Homo sapiens: one gene and its partner. The protein of the gene in region 2 purifies or fractionates together with the protein of the main gene of each other region. This does not show direct contact. Each region holds a gene or a part of one and is shown on either strand. Other genes may lie near its edges.

Region 1 (3,500 bases), on a different chromosome or scaffold from region 2:
CAAAAGTGCTGTATAATTTCCTGAAGCCTTCTTCCCATTTGATAAGAGAAAACTGGGACACTGAGAAGTGAAGGACTTGTTCGTGGAAGCAGTTACTACTTTTTTAGCCATCTTTCCCTGAGCTATAGTATCTGTTAATTGTCCCATGTCCCTGCTATACAAAGCACTGGGAGTAGGTTGACTGGTTCCAAACAGCCCCAAATAAAGTTTTTGTTGTACTTAGTTTCTTTTTTTTTTTTTTGAGATGCAGTCTCGCCCTCTCGCCCAGGCTGGAGTGCAATGGCACAATCTCAGCTCACTGCAACTTCCTCCTCCCAGGTTAAAGCAATTCTCCTGTCTCAGCTTCTTGAATAGCTGGGATTACAGGCGCGTGCCACCGTGCCCAGCTAATTTTTTGTATCTTTAGTAGAGGCGGGGCTTCACCATGTTGGCCAGGCTGGTCTCGAACCCCTGACCTCGTGATCTGCCCGCCTTGGCCTCCCAAAGTGCTGGGATTACAGGCATGAGCCACCATGCCCAGCCCTCTGGACTTAGTTTCTGAACTGGTTTGTAGGTAGAAGAGAGCTAGGTCCAGGGTGGGCTGAGATCAGACTGCTGGTCTTGCTGGAACCTCACTATAAAGTACAGAAGGCCAGGACCCCAACCTCTTGTAACTAGGCTCTAAGAAAACTCCTTTGGGAATAAGTCATTCTACTCTATGTTCTTAAAACAGCTCTGTAGGAAGCAAAGCCTCTAGAGGTAAAGCCACGTGCCAGTACAGAGAAACAAGAGGGGGTAAGCGGGACTGTGGCCACTTCCTCATTAAGATCTTGGTTCCTTTTCAACCTACTTATTTCCAAATCTTACTTCGTCATATCTGTCTTTTCTGAGCAGGCTCCGCCCTTTTTAATTAGTGTAGCTAACATGATAAAACTAAGGAGAAAAAAGTGATACCCAGATTTGATTTCTGATTATAATACTCTGCTTCTCTTAGACGCTTTAAAGTTCTCAAAGGGGGCTTTAAATAGGTTTCTTTTCCCTCCCTCCCTCCTTCTATCCTTTCTTCCTTCTTTCGTCTGTCCCCACAGTATGAGATGAATAGAGGTAGAAAACCTCATTGAAGGCGCAGAGAAAATAAGCAAGTTACTTAAGACTACACCATTACTAGTTGGAACCCAGATTAGAATCCAGGTTTTTTTCAGTCCAGTATCATAGTTTGTCTTCCTGTCCTCGCTGGAGTTGAAGTTTTGGGGTGTGTGTGTGTGTGTGTCAGAGTCTCACTATGTCACCCAGGCTGGAGTGCTGTGGCACAATCTCAGCTCACTGCAGCCTCCGCCTCCCAGGTTCAAGCAATTCTCCTGCCTCAGCCTTCTGAGTAGCTAGCATTACAGGTGTGCACCATCACACTTGGCTAATTTTTGTATTTTTAGTAGAGATGGGGTTTCGCCATGTTGGCCAGGCTGGTCTCAAACTCCTGACCTCAAGTGATCCACCCACCCACTTCGGCCTCCCAAAGTACTGGGATTACAGGCATGAGCCACTGTGCCCGGCCGAAGTTATATATGTTTTAGTTGCCACACTATCTGTTCCTTTTCCCATGTTTTAAATGCTGTGGCAAGGGCCGGGCATGGTGGCTCACTCCTGTAACCCTAGCACTTTGGGAGGCTGAGTGGGCATTTAAAGTGATGCTGATATACAGCCAGGGCTGAGAACTACTGGTCTAAAATAATTGATGAATAACATATCCAATTTTCTGTAGGGAGAAGACTCACAGGGAGACCCTAGGATATCTCCACACAGATCACTGGGGACTTAAGGAGTATTACCTAATGCCTTGAATTATGTAGAATTCAAAGTATTCTGGACTCTGGGTCATCCATCCTCTAATACAGTGCTTCCCAATCTTTATCATGTCATGAGACACATAGAAAATGTTATTTGTATAGCATCCTGGCACATAGAGAAATGGGTGATATTTTCAGGGCATCCTGGGGTAAATGATAAGTAGGCTCCTGGCTGGAGGTGACTTTGGAAACCCTAGGTTTCCTGGAATGAGGAGAACCAATGAGAGCACATCTCTGATCCATTCGAGGCTTATCAATTGGGAAGCTCTGTTTTAGAAACCTCAGAGTTCTTGACTAACCTCATCTAAAACCGGCCAGAAGCAAGTAAAGTCATTCCCAAAAAGGGCAAAAGGAATGACGATCCAGGAAAGCTCCTGAGGCCAAGGGCATGTATGCATGTGTTTTTACAAAGGAAGATTCAAAGCTAAAACCCTGAGCTAGAGATTTAGTGGCATTTCCTAGAGAAAATATAGGTTTGAAAACTTTGGTGTCTATTGTTGTAGAATCTTATGTATATGGCTAAATAAGGTTGAGGGCAGAGGGCAAAAAAATGAAGTTCACAGAACCTTTCTGGCATATAATGAGTCCTCTTGTGCTCTTTTATATTCCATTCCCTCCTGATAACCTTCAGATGGAGCTGGGGCAACAGCTTTTCAGTTCAAATCTAGAGGTGCCTGTATTCACCCAAATATGTTGTGACATCTTTAGGGGATAAAAGATACGCAGAATCAGTGAGGCAAAGTCAGAATTGTTAACTATGGGAGCTTTAATTTGACTCATTCTGTCCTGGCAGCTTCAATTAGTGGAGACACAGGGGTTATCCACGTAGTAGAGAAAGAGGAGGACCTACAGTGGGTATTGACTGATGGCCCCAACCCCCCTTACATGGTTCTGCTGGAGAGCAAGCATTTTACCAGGTAAGAACTAGATGTATCTGCTGGGAAAACATCCATAGAGGGAAAGTTTCAGTGAACAGTCCTCACACTTATTAGTGAAAACTTCCCTTGGCTGCCCTGGTCTGGTCAGGGGAGAGGGCAGGGTGGTCCTCAGAAGGAAAGGTGTACCATCAAAAGAAATGATCTTGAGCTTAGGGCTAAATTTCACCTACCTGTCCCTGAGTAACCCTGGGCATCCCTCCCCTCCCTCCCTGGGGTCCTTACTCACTAAAGCTCTACTTTTTAGAGCAGATCATTGTCCAGACTCAGAATTTAGAGACTGAAAGGGAAGAAATAAGTCAACAGTTTGATTCCCCTAGTTCCCCATTTGTTTCCATCCTGCAGGCAGAATGTCAGGCTGTCTGATACCTTCCTGTGTTCCTTCATGGAATTCCTTTCCTATTCCAGGGATTTAATGGAGAAGCTGAAAGGGAGAACCAGCCGAATTGCTGGTCTTGCAGTGTCCTTGACCAAGCCCAGTCCTGCCTCAGGCTTCTCTCCTAGTGTACAGTGCCCAAATGATGGGTTTGGTAAGTGTCCCAAAGGATCAGGAGAGCCTACTGTCACCTAAGGCTCACTGTTGCTTCGGTCTTACGTCTTTGTGAGGGATGTATATGTGTTTGTGTCTGTGTGTAGTGTCAGTAACTGACTCCCAAACAGGGGGTAGTGTTTATTTGTCTTTGCTGCTCATCCCTTCCCTCTCCTGCTTCCCCTTCCTTTGCCTTACCTGGCATTATCTCTT
Region 2 (3,847 bases):
GAAAGTATTATGAATACAGGTCTTATTTCACTAGACAGTTACTTTTGGCATTTATTCATTTAATTCGATAAGACCATATTTGTCAGTAGGGACCAGACCACATTAGGAACAATCTATAAACAATCCCCGCCATAAAGACCAGTTTGCAGTAAGATTGTTGGTAACTGGCTTAGTCAGTTTTGTTTCTTATGTTTTTTTTTTTCTTCTTGCTGGGGCATTGGAAATGTCAGAAAACCCAATTAAACTGGCTTAGAAATAATGGAAATTTTTTGGGCTCACATAATAAAAAATTTAAATAGTGGACCTAATCCAGTGGCTCACAGCATGTCCCCGGGGATCTGTCTGTTGTTTCTCTTCTGGTTGCCTCCCTTGGGGACGCAGGATAGCTGCTGGCTGCTCCCAGAGGTACGTCTTTTCTATTTGCTTTTTGTGGGAAGGTGATCTTTCAAAAAAGTGCTCTTTATGGTGGAGTTTATAGATTGTTGCTAACGTGGTCCGGTACTACTGACAGATAAACATGGTCTTACCCAATTAAATGAATACATACCAAAAGTAACTGTCTAATGAAATAAGACCTGTATTCATACCACTTTCTCTCCTCGTTCCTGACAGAACTCTCTCAGAACAGCCTAGCAAGCAGAAGGCAGTAGAAGTTTGTTAAAAGAATGGACAATCCAGCCCACCAAATAATCTGATATTGAGTGTTTGAATTATGGAGGGAAGCTAAACTTCATCCCCTGTGAGGCACCCATCCTGGGCTTCACTCACACTGGACTAGGGTGGGTCACGTGCCCACCTCTAAACCAGTTCCTGGAGTTGGGAGGGCGGAATTAGAGCTCAAGACTTCTTCCTCCCCTCTACAGCCACATTGCACTGGGCTCCTTGTGACACACGTGTGCTCCATGGGGGGTGTGTACCCAGGTAAACCTAGGGGCTCTTATTCAGGAGGGAGGGGGCACTGGGTGGTTAAAAACAGCGATTGTCACCATGGCAAAAACAAGATGTTTTTTATGAGGGAAATAAAAAATAAAGCAGTCCTTCCAAACTTTCCAGAATATAGATATAATGGAAACTTTTGTATATGCAAATGATTACTTATATATGTAGAGATGCAATATATAAAATATAAACAATCATCTTTCGTCCACATAAGATCGCCCTGATTTGTAGCATTTGCTAATTTCTGTGGTATAAATACTCCTACTGTGGCTGATGCCAGGCTTCCAGCATTATGTGACTGAGCACAGAGCTGTGCAGTGATGAGCAGCATCAGCAGGTGCAGCCAGCTCCGGGCACCACTGCACAGATCAGTGCACCTTCATATGCCCAAGGCTCGCAGCAGGGGCGGACCAATGCTGCATTTTATAGACAGAGTAAAGCCTGTCATGTAAGACTATTTATGTGAACCTTTCAGGACACTTGGGGTAAACACATTTATTTAGTAGCATCTTGACTAATAACAATTTCCTTGATCTAAACCTCCCAACAGCTTTTTGGTTCTAAATTATTATTTATTATTTTTCTACCTAGATTTTTAGACATTAGCTCACCCATTTTTTATACGGCTTTCTGTATTAGATTAATTGGTTTTTGCATGTTTTCAAATGAAGAGTGCTTAACAGCAGGGTTACACTTAAAGTAGTTATGTTAAGGTAATTCATAATAATGAAGACAGGCAAGTTGCTGTTTTCTGAGGTTCTCATTGAGGCTAATAGTCTTAAGCTACATCATGAGCCTTAAGAGCCAATGTTTGCATATGGGATGTATACCACGAGCTTCTAGAAGCTGGAATGTGGTAATTTTGTTATAGAAGATTTTATTTGACTCGTTCCTCATTTTAAGATGAGTTGAGAAAAGCTGGGTACTCTCAAAGTTTTTTAAGAATTTATTTTTCTGCTTTATATGCTGCTATCTCCTAGTTGATAGCTTGAACGGTGGTTGATCTAAAGAATCACATTTTTTTTATTACTAATTTGGTTAAAACACTGATATTTGTGAAATGGCTATTTCTGTTTGTAAAGATAGACCAATTTCACAGAATTGAAGTTACTGGCTAATTGAGAGGCTCAAAATGGTCCATCTTCCTTGGTCCTGCAAGAGTAATAAAAAATCCCCACAAAATACTGTTCTGCCACCTTACTTTATTTACAAAACACATTATTGGGCATATTTCAAATCGAAGTCTCATTTCTGTGACACTGGGTTTTGATTTTCTTTCTCTGCCATTGTAAACTAGCTGGTCTGTGTTAGATAAGCTTTTACTGAAGTAATATTGTGTCTTCCCCTGTAGCATTCTCTTTCTTGAGTGACCTTAGGACAGGGTACAGAATAAAATTATATGCTCTGCAGCACTCTTGAGGACACACTCATTTACTTGCTGCCAGATCATCAGGTTAGCCTTGTGCTTAAGCAAAAACACTGCTGCATTTGTGCCAAGTCAGCATTTTCCACAGGAAAGTAATCTGTATTTGACCTTTTTAGTAGAAAATGGAAATAGTTGCTTTCTGTCATACCTTTAGTGAATGATAGGAGACCTATTTCTGTACAGAATACATTGGAACCTCACTAGTACGTTATTGGTAAATAGTGTACAGTGTTCATCTGTCTTGATTTTGTTTCATTCAAGAGGTATCAGTTGCTGAAAGGAATGAAAGGAGCTTGTCCTTTCTTCTCACTTATCAGGTGGTCCTGTTGCTGGTAGTCCCTGAGATCACAGTTGGCTTCCAGCTTCATTTTATTCAGCATTTATTTAGCACCTTATCTTTGCCAGGAGCTAAGATCTTTAAGCTGAATTCATGTTGAGTTTTATAAAGAATTTAGTATGTCAAATAATTTGTAGAATTCTTAGTAACAGAATAGGATAAAAAGCAGTGGAAACTTCTCAGCAGATATTTCGAATTGGATAGTACTTCCTCCCCTGCAGGAAATATGGAAGGTATAAGAACTGCTACTAATTATGCGGAAATTTCAGTTTAGTAACCAGAAAGTTACTGATATACAGCTCCCCCCGCCCCACCCCTTTAAAAATAATAAACAGGGGCCAAGTGTGGAGGCTCATGCCTGTAATCCCAGCACTTTGGGAGGCTGAGGTGGGTGGATCACTTGAAACCAGGAGTTCAAGACCAGCCTGGCCAACGTGGCAAAACCCCATCTCTACTAAAAATGTATAAAAATTAGCCGCACGTGGTGGTGCATGCCTGTAATCCCAGCTACTGGGGTGGCTGAGGCATGAGAATCGCTTGAACCTGGGAAGTGAAGGTTTCAGTGAACCGAGGTCATGCCACTGCACACCAGCCTGGGCGACAGAGTGAGACTCTGTCTCCAAAAAAAGGGATGAATAATAGTAATAATAATAAACAGAAATGCTGTCTCTTTTTTTTTTCTTTTTTGAGACAGTCTTGCTGTGACACTGGAGTGCAGTGGCGTGATCTCGGCTCACTGCAACCTCAATGCAAGCCATTCTTCTGCCTCAGCCTCCTGAGTAGCTGGGATTACAGGCACGTGCCATCATGGCCAGCTAATTTTTGTATTTTTAGTAGAGACGGGGTTTCACCATGTTGGTCAGGCTGGTCTCTAACTCCTGACCTCGGGTGATCTGCCTGCCTTGGCCTCCCAAAGTGCTGGGATTACAGGTGTGAGCCACTGCGCCTGGCAAGAAATGCTGTCTCTTAAGCAAAGAAAAGGTCCCTCTCCCCCGCATTTGGTGATTTTAAGTGTGTTTTTTAACTTAAACTACTATTGTTTTTAGGAGGTTGCTCAAAGAAGTACAGTCTTTAAAACAACCATACCTGAAGAAGAGGAGGAGGAGGAAGAAGCAGCTGGAGTGGTTGTTGAGGAAGAACTTTTC

What was found. Proteins that work in one complex are often made in the same cells at the same time.
Region 1: the proteins of LMNB1 (region 2) and NCSTN fractionate together in Homo sapiens (co-fractionation; one large-scale study listed by BioGRID). This does not show direct contact.

What each region holds. Positions count from the first base shown.
Region 1 is NC_000001.11:160,346,383-160,349,882, forward strand, and holds part of NCSTN (nicastrin isoform 1 precursor), read left to right. Parts: intron 1-2,616; coding exon 2,617-2,740; intron 2,741-3,166; coding exon 3,167-3,288; intron 3,289-3,500. UniProt on the Homo sapiens protein: Essential subunit of the gamma-secretase complex, an endoprotease complex that catalyzes the intramembrane cleavage of integral membrane proteins such as Notch receptors and APP (amyloid-beta precursor protein).
Region 2 is NC_000005.10:126,828,946-126,832,792, forward strand, and holds part of LMNB1 (lamin-B1), read left to right. Parts: intron 1-3,748; coding exon 3,749-3,847. UniProt on the Homo sapiens protein: Lamins are intermediate filament proteins that assemble into a filamentous meshwork, and which constitute the major components of the nuclear lamina, a fibrous layer on the nucleoplasmic side of the inner nuclear membrane.